Linked DNA regions of Homo sapiens. The protein of the gene in region 2 purifies or fractionates together with the protein of the main gene of each other region. This does not show direct contact. Each region holds a gene or a part of one and is shown on either strand. Other genes may lie near its edges.

What was found. The genes of interacting proteins can lie anywhere in the genome.
Region 1: the proteins of GPC4 (region 2) and SPCS2 purify together in Homo sapiens (affinity purification with mass spectrometry; 2 studies listed by BioGRID and IntAct, with this or other methods). This does not show direct contact.

The regions. Positions count from the first base shown.
Region 1 is NC_000011.10:74,952,204-74,955,956, reverse strand, and holds part of SPCS2 (signal peptidase complex subunit 2), read right to left. Parts: intron 1-3,753. UniProt on the Homo sapiens protein: Component of the signal peptidase complex (SPC) which catalyzes the cleavage of N-terminal signal sequences from nascent proteins as they are translocated into the lumen of the endoplasmic reticulum.
Region 2 is NC_000023.11:133,303,878-133,307,630, forward strand, and holds part of GPC4 (glypican-4 precursor), read right to left. Parts: intron 2,278-3,753; coding exon 2,147-2,277; intron 2,042-2,146; coding exon 1,895-2,041; intron 985-1,894; coding exon 848-984; intron 1-847. UniProt on the Homo sapiens protein: Cell surface proteoglycan that bears heparan sulfate. May be involved in the development of kidney tubules and of the central nervous system.

The sequences.
Region 1 (3,753 bases), on a different chromosome or scaffold from region 2:
TTGATAAGATGGAGATCAGAGCAGAGAAATGGTGCTAGCAACAGCTGAAAAAGGTACCTAGGCAGGCAGATATATATATATATATATATATATATATATATATATTTTAATTAGTAATTAAAGTAATAGTATTAAAGTAATCAGTGTCTGTGATACCACTGTGTTACATGACATATAGTTTAAAGAAATAATAATTTGAAACTTTAAGGGTTACTCCAGGAAAGACAAAAATAAGTTTCTAAAATTGCGATATAGTTCACACACTATAAAATTCACTATTTAAAAATAATGCCAATTCAGTGGTTTTTAGTATACTCACAAGGTTATGCAACCATCACCACTATCTAATTCTAGAATATATGCATACCCTCAAAAAGAAACTCCATACCCATTAGCAGTCACATCTTATTCCTGTCCCCTATCCCCGGGCAGCCAACAATCTACTTTCTGTCTCTATGGATATACAAATGCAGTCATACTATATATGGCCTTTTGTGATCGGTTTCTTTCACTTAGCGCATTTTCAGGATTCATCCATATTGTAGTATGTATCAATACTTTATTCTAACGGTCAAATTATATTCCATTGTATAGATATATCACATTGCATTTATCCATTCATCAGCTGACAGACTGTTTCTACCTTTAGGCCATTATGATAACTGTGTTATGAACATTTGTGTGCCAAGTTTTCCTGTGGACACACATTTTCAGTTCTCTTGGGTATACACCTAGGAGTGGAATTGTTGGGTCATATGGTTAACTTTACGTTGAATTTTCTGAGGAACTGTCAAACTGTTTCCAAGAGTGCCACCACATTTTACATCCCTGTTAGCGATATATGAAGATTCTGATTTCTCCATATTCTCACCAAAACAGGTTATTTTCCTTTTTTTTCCCCCTTTATTATAGCAATCTTAGTGGACGTGAAGTGGTTTCTCATTGTGGTTTTACTTTGCATTTCTCTAATGACTGATGATGTTGCGCATCTTTCCATGTGCTATGGGCCATTCGTACGTCTTCTATGGAGAAATGTCTATTTACATCTTTTGCCCTTTTAAAAACTAGGTTGCTGTCTTTTTATTACTGAGTTGTAAAATTCTTTATATAGTCTAGATGCTAGACCCTTATCAGATATATGATTTGAAAATGTTTTCTCTCATTCTGTAGATTGTCTTTTTTCACTTTCTTGATAGTGGCCTTTGACACACACATACTTTTTATTTTGAGGAAATAAAAAATAATGAGTTTTGAGACGCTAATAAAGATCAGTTTGCAACAGTATTAAAAGGCCAGCACCTTGTTTCATTAAACACACACACACAATTATAGTAATGTTATAAAACCGTTCATCTTCTTTGTCAGAGCTAGGTAACAGGGCACAAGCATATCACCTGGAAGTCTGACAAGCTAAGATATCTTCCAGTAGAGTAAAAGAGGAGATACCTAAGGACATATGGTTGGTGGGTGACAAAGCCAAGGCCACAGCCTAGGTCTTCCACCTCACAACAGATGCTCATCCCACTACTACGTTAGCTAGCACATTAGATAGCACAAGGCACACTCTGGTATGGGAAGCAATGTGCTGAGTAAAGAAAGAGCACTGGATTAAGCACTGGGGGAGCCAGGTTCTGTAAGTGTTACTAATTCACTGTGTGGTCTTGGGCAAGTTGCTTTGCTTGTGTCCTTGTCTACAAAATGAGGCTGAAGTATCATATGAGTTTCAGGATCTCTTCATTATAAACATTTTAAAGAAACCACTATTAAGCAGAATAGCTTTTAAAAACAAAACAAAAACCTTAAAATGTCAGAACCAGAAGAGACTTTAAAAAATCATTTAAGCCAGTAGTTCTCAACCTGGAGGTAACTGTTAAAATGCAGAGGTAATAGAGACATGTGAAGAAAAATGCAGATATTCAGGCCTAAAAAAAGGTCCAAAAATCTGTTAATTTTAACTAATTCTCAAAGGAGTCTGATGTAAACAGATTAAAGCTGTGCTTTAAGATCAGGCTGACAGGCCAGCCAGGAGACAGAAATCCAGGTATAAGGCTAAAAGGGTCTAGATAATAGCTTCTGGAAAGCATGGTTTAACACCACATATCAACTTTAATAGCCAAAACAAATTAAGCAAGCAGCTTTTCTTTATAACTGCCAGGCAGAAGAAAATGCTTTGATGTATTTGGGGCAAAATAACATACTGCAATGATCTAAGTCAAGTTATTCTGTGATGGAGGCGGAAAGATTATATTTGCATACTTATTTTTAAGATCAGGAAACAAGAATTGCTGTGTTCTTAAAGTCAGTTTCATAAGAGTAGAAATTCACATCTGCTTAGGGAAAACTAGGAGCATATTTGCATCTCTTTATTACACTTCTTTATGGCAAGTGAAACTACAGCTGCAGAAATAAAATAAAAACCCTCCCCGCCCAAATCAAGACACATCAAATTAAATAAATTATATTAGGCTGGGTGTGGTGGCGCACGCTTGTAAACCCCGCACTTTGGGAGGCCGAGGCCGTTGGATCACCTGAGGTCAGGAGTTTGAGACCAGCCTGGCCAACATGGTGAAACCCTGTCTCTACTAAATATACAAAAATTAGCCGGGTATGGAGGCACATGCCTGTAATCCCAGCTACTCGGGAGACTGAGGCAGGAGAATTGTTTGAACCTGGGAGGCGGGGGTTGCAGTGAGTGGAGATTGCGACAAATCGAGACTCTGTCTCAAAAAAAAAAAAAAATTATATTAAAGGTAATAGCTTCTCATTCCCACACAGCAAAAGCCTCTCTATTCATTCAGATCCTGCTCCACTGAGAATAACATTTTTTTCCCCAAGTTCTCTCCCACAGTACCCTCAGTCTTCAAACAATTAGAGGCACCATCCTCTAAAGCTGTTTCTGAAGACTGAGGTGGCAGATCTCAAGTTTTTTCTCTGCGAAATTCAATGCTAAAAGTACTTATCTTGTGTTGATCACTACAGAGAAGCACTCACAGGAAAACGGGCAAATACAAATTGGTGAAATAATACAAGACAGTATGTCATATTAAGTGACAGCTTAATTCCCATGTGCAGTGTAAGTGCTAGAGGAATTCAGGGAGGGAACAGTTCAATGTAAGGCTGAAACTAAGTTTTCCAAGAAAAGGCACTCAAGCAGCTCTTGACTATTCTCTTCTGTCCCTCACTTATTGGTTAAATCTTCCAAGCACTCTTTTGTGAGACCTTTTATCTATTTCTGCTACTCATGTTGGGGTTCTCATCACCTTGTCATTCTATTTTTTACCACAGACAGCCCTTTACAAAGAACATTTACTTCTAGTAGATTCCAAAGGACAGGGAACAGAGCTGGGTGCGGTGGCTCATGCCTGTAATTCCAGTACTTTGGGAGGCTGAGGTGGGCAGATCACTTGAGGCCAGGAGTTCACGATTAGTCTGGGCAACACAGTGAGACCTTGTCTCTACCAAAAATAAAAATAAAAATAAAATAAAAAGGGCAGAGGAAACCAAACTAAAAAACCCAAAGAACATTTACCAGCACTATACAATTTGATCCTTACAACAAGCCTATAATATGTATGAATGTCCACAATATTTACATAAGGAAATTTAAATTCAGTAATATCACACAACTTATCCAAGGTCATGTGGCTTTTATTAGGTAGGTGCAAAAGTTATCGTGGTTTTTGCCATTACTTTCAATGGCAAAAACAGCAATTACTTTTGCACCAACCTAATAACATGCGGCACTAGAACTCA
Region 2 (3,753 bases):
GCAGGGTGACAGTGATACTCTGTTGGAGGAAGGAAGGAAGGAAGGAAGGAAGGAAGGAAGGAAGGAAGGAAGGAAGGAAGCTAGCTATCCCTCTTGAGGAGGATGGTGGGTTGAAGTAAAGAAGTATGGGTACTGGCTGGGTGCGGTGGCTCACACCTGTAATCCCAGCACTTTGGGAGGCTGAGGCAGGCGGATCACAAGGTCAGGAGATCAAGACCATCCTGGCTAACATGGTGAAACCCTGTCACTACTAAAAATACAAAAAAAAAAAAATTAGCCAGGCATGGTGGCAGGCACCTGTAGTCCTAGCTACTCAGGAGACTGAGGCAGGAGAATCACTTGAACCCGGGAGGTGGAGGTTGCAGTGAGCCGAGATTGTGCCACTACACTCCAGCTTGGGCAAAAGAGCGAGACTCCATCTCAAACAAGCAAACAAAAAAAAGTATGGGTACTTCTCTAAGTTACTGAGCGTCTAAGGGAGGGACACAGGGCATCAAGTCAGAGAATGGAACCTTTGAGAACTGGTTATTTATGAGGCTAGGCCATTGGACAAAGAGCCACAGGCATTAAATATTTTAAAAATAATGACACTATTGGAACAGCCCTAATACGAGACTATAACTACTGTCAAACTTTTGACTCAGCACTCTTTGTAAGTAACTGGGTGCCTTCTCAACACTCCTAGTGCAAAGCCTGTTCCTAAGAACACCTAGAAGCCTTCCATGTTGTTGCTACCTACTGTGAATTGCTTCCTGATGCCTCGGTTGACAATTGAGAGAACCCTCTCTGAAGGTCACCCAGGCATCTAGGAAGGGAGAAACTTCAAATTCATTCAACAGACACTAACCTGCTTTTGCCTTTCCCATTCCAACAGTCATCCTCATTGCCGTTTCCTGCAGCCATCCTCTCATCGTTGCAAACGTTGCTCGGAAGGGAGGACCAGAATTTCTTGGCCTGTTTCAGTTTCTCCTTGACATCAGTAACCTAATTATGAAACAACAACAACAAAAAAAGATCATTGTAAGACAAGACAAAACTACCTACAAGTGTGCCTTCTGGCCATTTCCAAAGTATCTCCAGAGTGATATGCAATTCATTTTCAACTTTAATTAGAAGAGGAAGATGCAACTCCAATTTATATCTTAGAAGTACAAAACCACTCAAATAATAGTTGAAATGCAAGCTCCAAAGGAGTGGCCTAGACCCCTTGCCCACCTCATTGTAAGTACCATCTGAGGCCTACCAGTCTCCATGCCCTGTAGGCACAAAGATAACATGCAGTCTCTTCTCCTAAGGCTTTTAGAGTCAGGATCAAGCATGTATATTATGCACTCTGTGAAACATAGCTGCTATTGCTCTTTCTCTCCATCCCTGTCTCCTCAGGCTCCCTCTTCTGTGTTCCTACTACTGTAGGAATAGTTTCTTACATTTTTGTAGCATATTACTGTGGATAAAGCAATTTGCCTACAGTTACTCACTTTTCTCCCATCTCAGCTTTTACTAAACATCATTTTATGTTAATAAGCCTGGAACATCTACTTCTCCCTCTTTGCCTCCTTGTTGGTGCCTTTTGAGAACAAGGATCTGCCTTATTTCTCTGAGCTTCTCTATGCCTAGCACAGTGATGGGCACATAGTAGATGTTCAATAAATGCATGGTGAATCTAAAGAGAAATTTTGAGACAAGACTTATTGCATCATAACTCCTTGGCTACCCAAGAACTTTCTGGGCTAGAAAATGGGACAGGCAGATTGACTGACATCCACATCCTATTTGCTTGAAAAGTGACACCTGAAAGACCCACACTTGTTAGCCTTCCAGCTAAAAATTCATTTTGAGCAAGAGTTTTCAGTTCTTTGTCATTAAACACGGCCCTTCCTGCCAAAACGCTCACCAGTCGGTCCAAACTAGTGCCAGCTGCTGTGGTTGGGCGTTCCTCGGGGTGATGTGGTCTGAAGCGAGCACTGAAGGCACTTTCAGAGATGGAACGAGAAATTCGTCCAGCTGGGAGGGGCTTGGGGGGTCCACATCCCTGGAAAACCTGCATTAGAGTAAGTGTCGTCATGTTAGGGAAGTCACTCCCAAGGCGGGAGGCGGAGGCGGGGGAGGTCCCTAGCTCCCCTTTCCAGCATCCTGCCTTCATTACCTTCTGAGACACTTGAACACTATTATCCTGCATGTTCATAATAGCATCAGAAATCTTCACATCGATGGGATCCATGACCGATTCAATGTTGAAAGGACCCTCTAGCCTCTCTGCCACCATCAGCATAGCATCTAATATGAGGTTTGGGGAAGAACAATACAGCATAAAAAGTCAATCATTAGTTTGGCCTTGGGTAAATCAATCTGATTTTTTTTTCTGTCTGTTTCCTGCATGGGGGCAGGGGAAGTAAGGCATGGATCATAATGAATTCTTGTTTTTATGTCTATTTCCCTTACACCAAACTGCATTTAGTCACTATGTATCACTAGCTCTCTAAAGTGTGAAATGGCCAGATGAAGGCTTAGTTCTACAGCAAGGAAACCCAATCAGGAACTTTCCTCAATACTGATTATTCGTGTGTCAGCCACTGTCACTGTAAGGCTCTTAGTTAGCTCCCAGATGACAAACCTAAGGCTGGAGACAAAATAACATGCCAGCTCTCCCAGAGACTTCCCTAGGATCTTCTCGTTTCACATTCCATTTACAAGAGTCAAAAACATAAATCAGTTAAGATGCTGGCATATTAATTCTTTTCTTTTGTTTTTAAAAACAAAACCCCTCAGATCCTTGAGTGCACCGTTGGATAATACAAATGAAAGGGTTCCTAGGAATTCTAATGACTTTTCAAATACTAAAACTTTGAATAATCCAATTTTTGTATTAAGAAAAACTTCTCATTGCAAATACAATGGCTTCAATTTATCTTAAGGCATGTACCTCCTTTTTTTTGCAAGTGAGAAGATGACACAAGATACAGTACACAAAATTAGTGGGCTCACAGTATATATCTTCACCGATTATCCTGCTTTAGACTCTGGAGTAGCATGGCATTTTCCAGTAAGCACTGAATCGCTTCAATAAAATACATTGTCTTTGTTTTCTTGCCATATATGTTTCTTAGGATTATGAGGCTTAGTATTTTTGCCTGCTACCTGTTTTACAAAATTAGAAGAACTTGGAAATGAAAACCCCAAATGACAAAAAGGATGCTTCATTAACGACAAACAGTGAACTTTTAAACTTGTTTATCCCCCCTTTACACTCTAGTGCTTAGTGCATGGCAAGAAAGGAGTTAGACCCACATTATCTATCATCTTCAGGTAGTGCAAGGATGGTTACTTGAAAGAAGAGCTAGTTCCCGGAAGATTGTGTCCTACCCAAAGAACACAGCTGACAATTGCAGCCCCCAGCTGAGCTTCTATCTAAGCTTTCTAGTGGAAAGCAGCATAGGCATCAGCATATCAATGAAACCAAATCTAGTCATCAAGCTTTCACCTTCAACCTAGAACAAATGCTACACAACATTTTAATGCACGGGGTCATTTCTCTAAACTACAATTCCGATGTCACAAACCACAAATAGATTTCCATGAAATGCAATTTTTAAAACAGTAATAACAAATGAAGTTTCAGAATGCATTGTGGTAAGCGCCAATCAAGTGATGCTTCTAACTCTAAGTAAGGGCTGAAAGCATGAATATACCATTGTACTACAGGAGAGAAAAAAAATGCTTTTGATGTGCTAGCAAAAGGAGACTTTTGTAAAC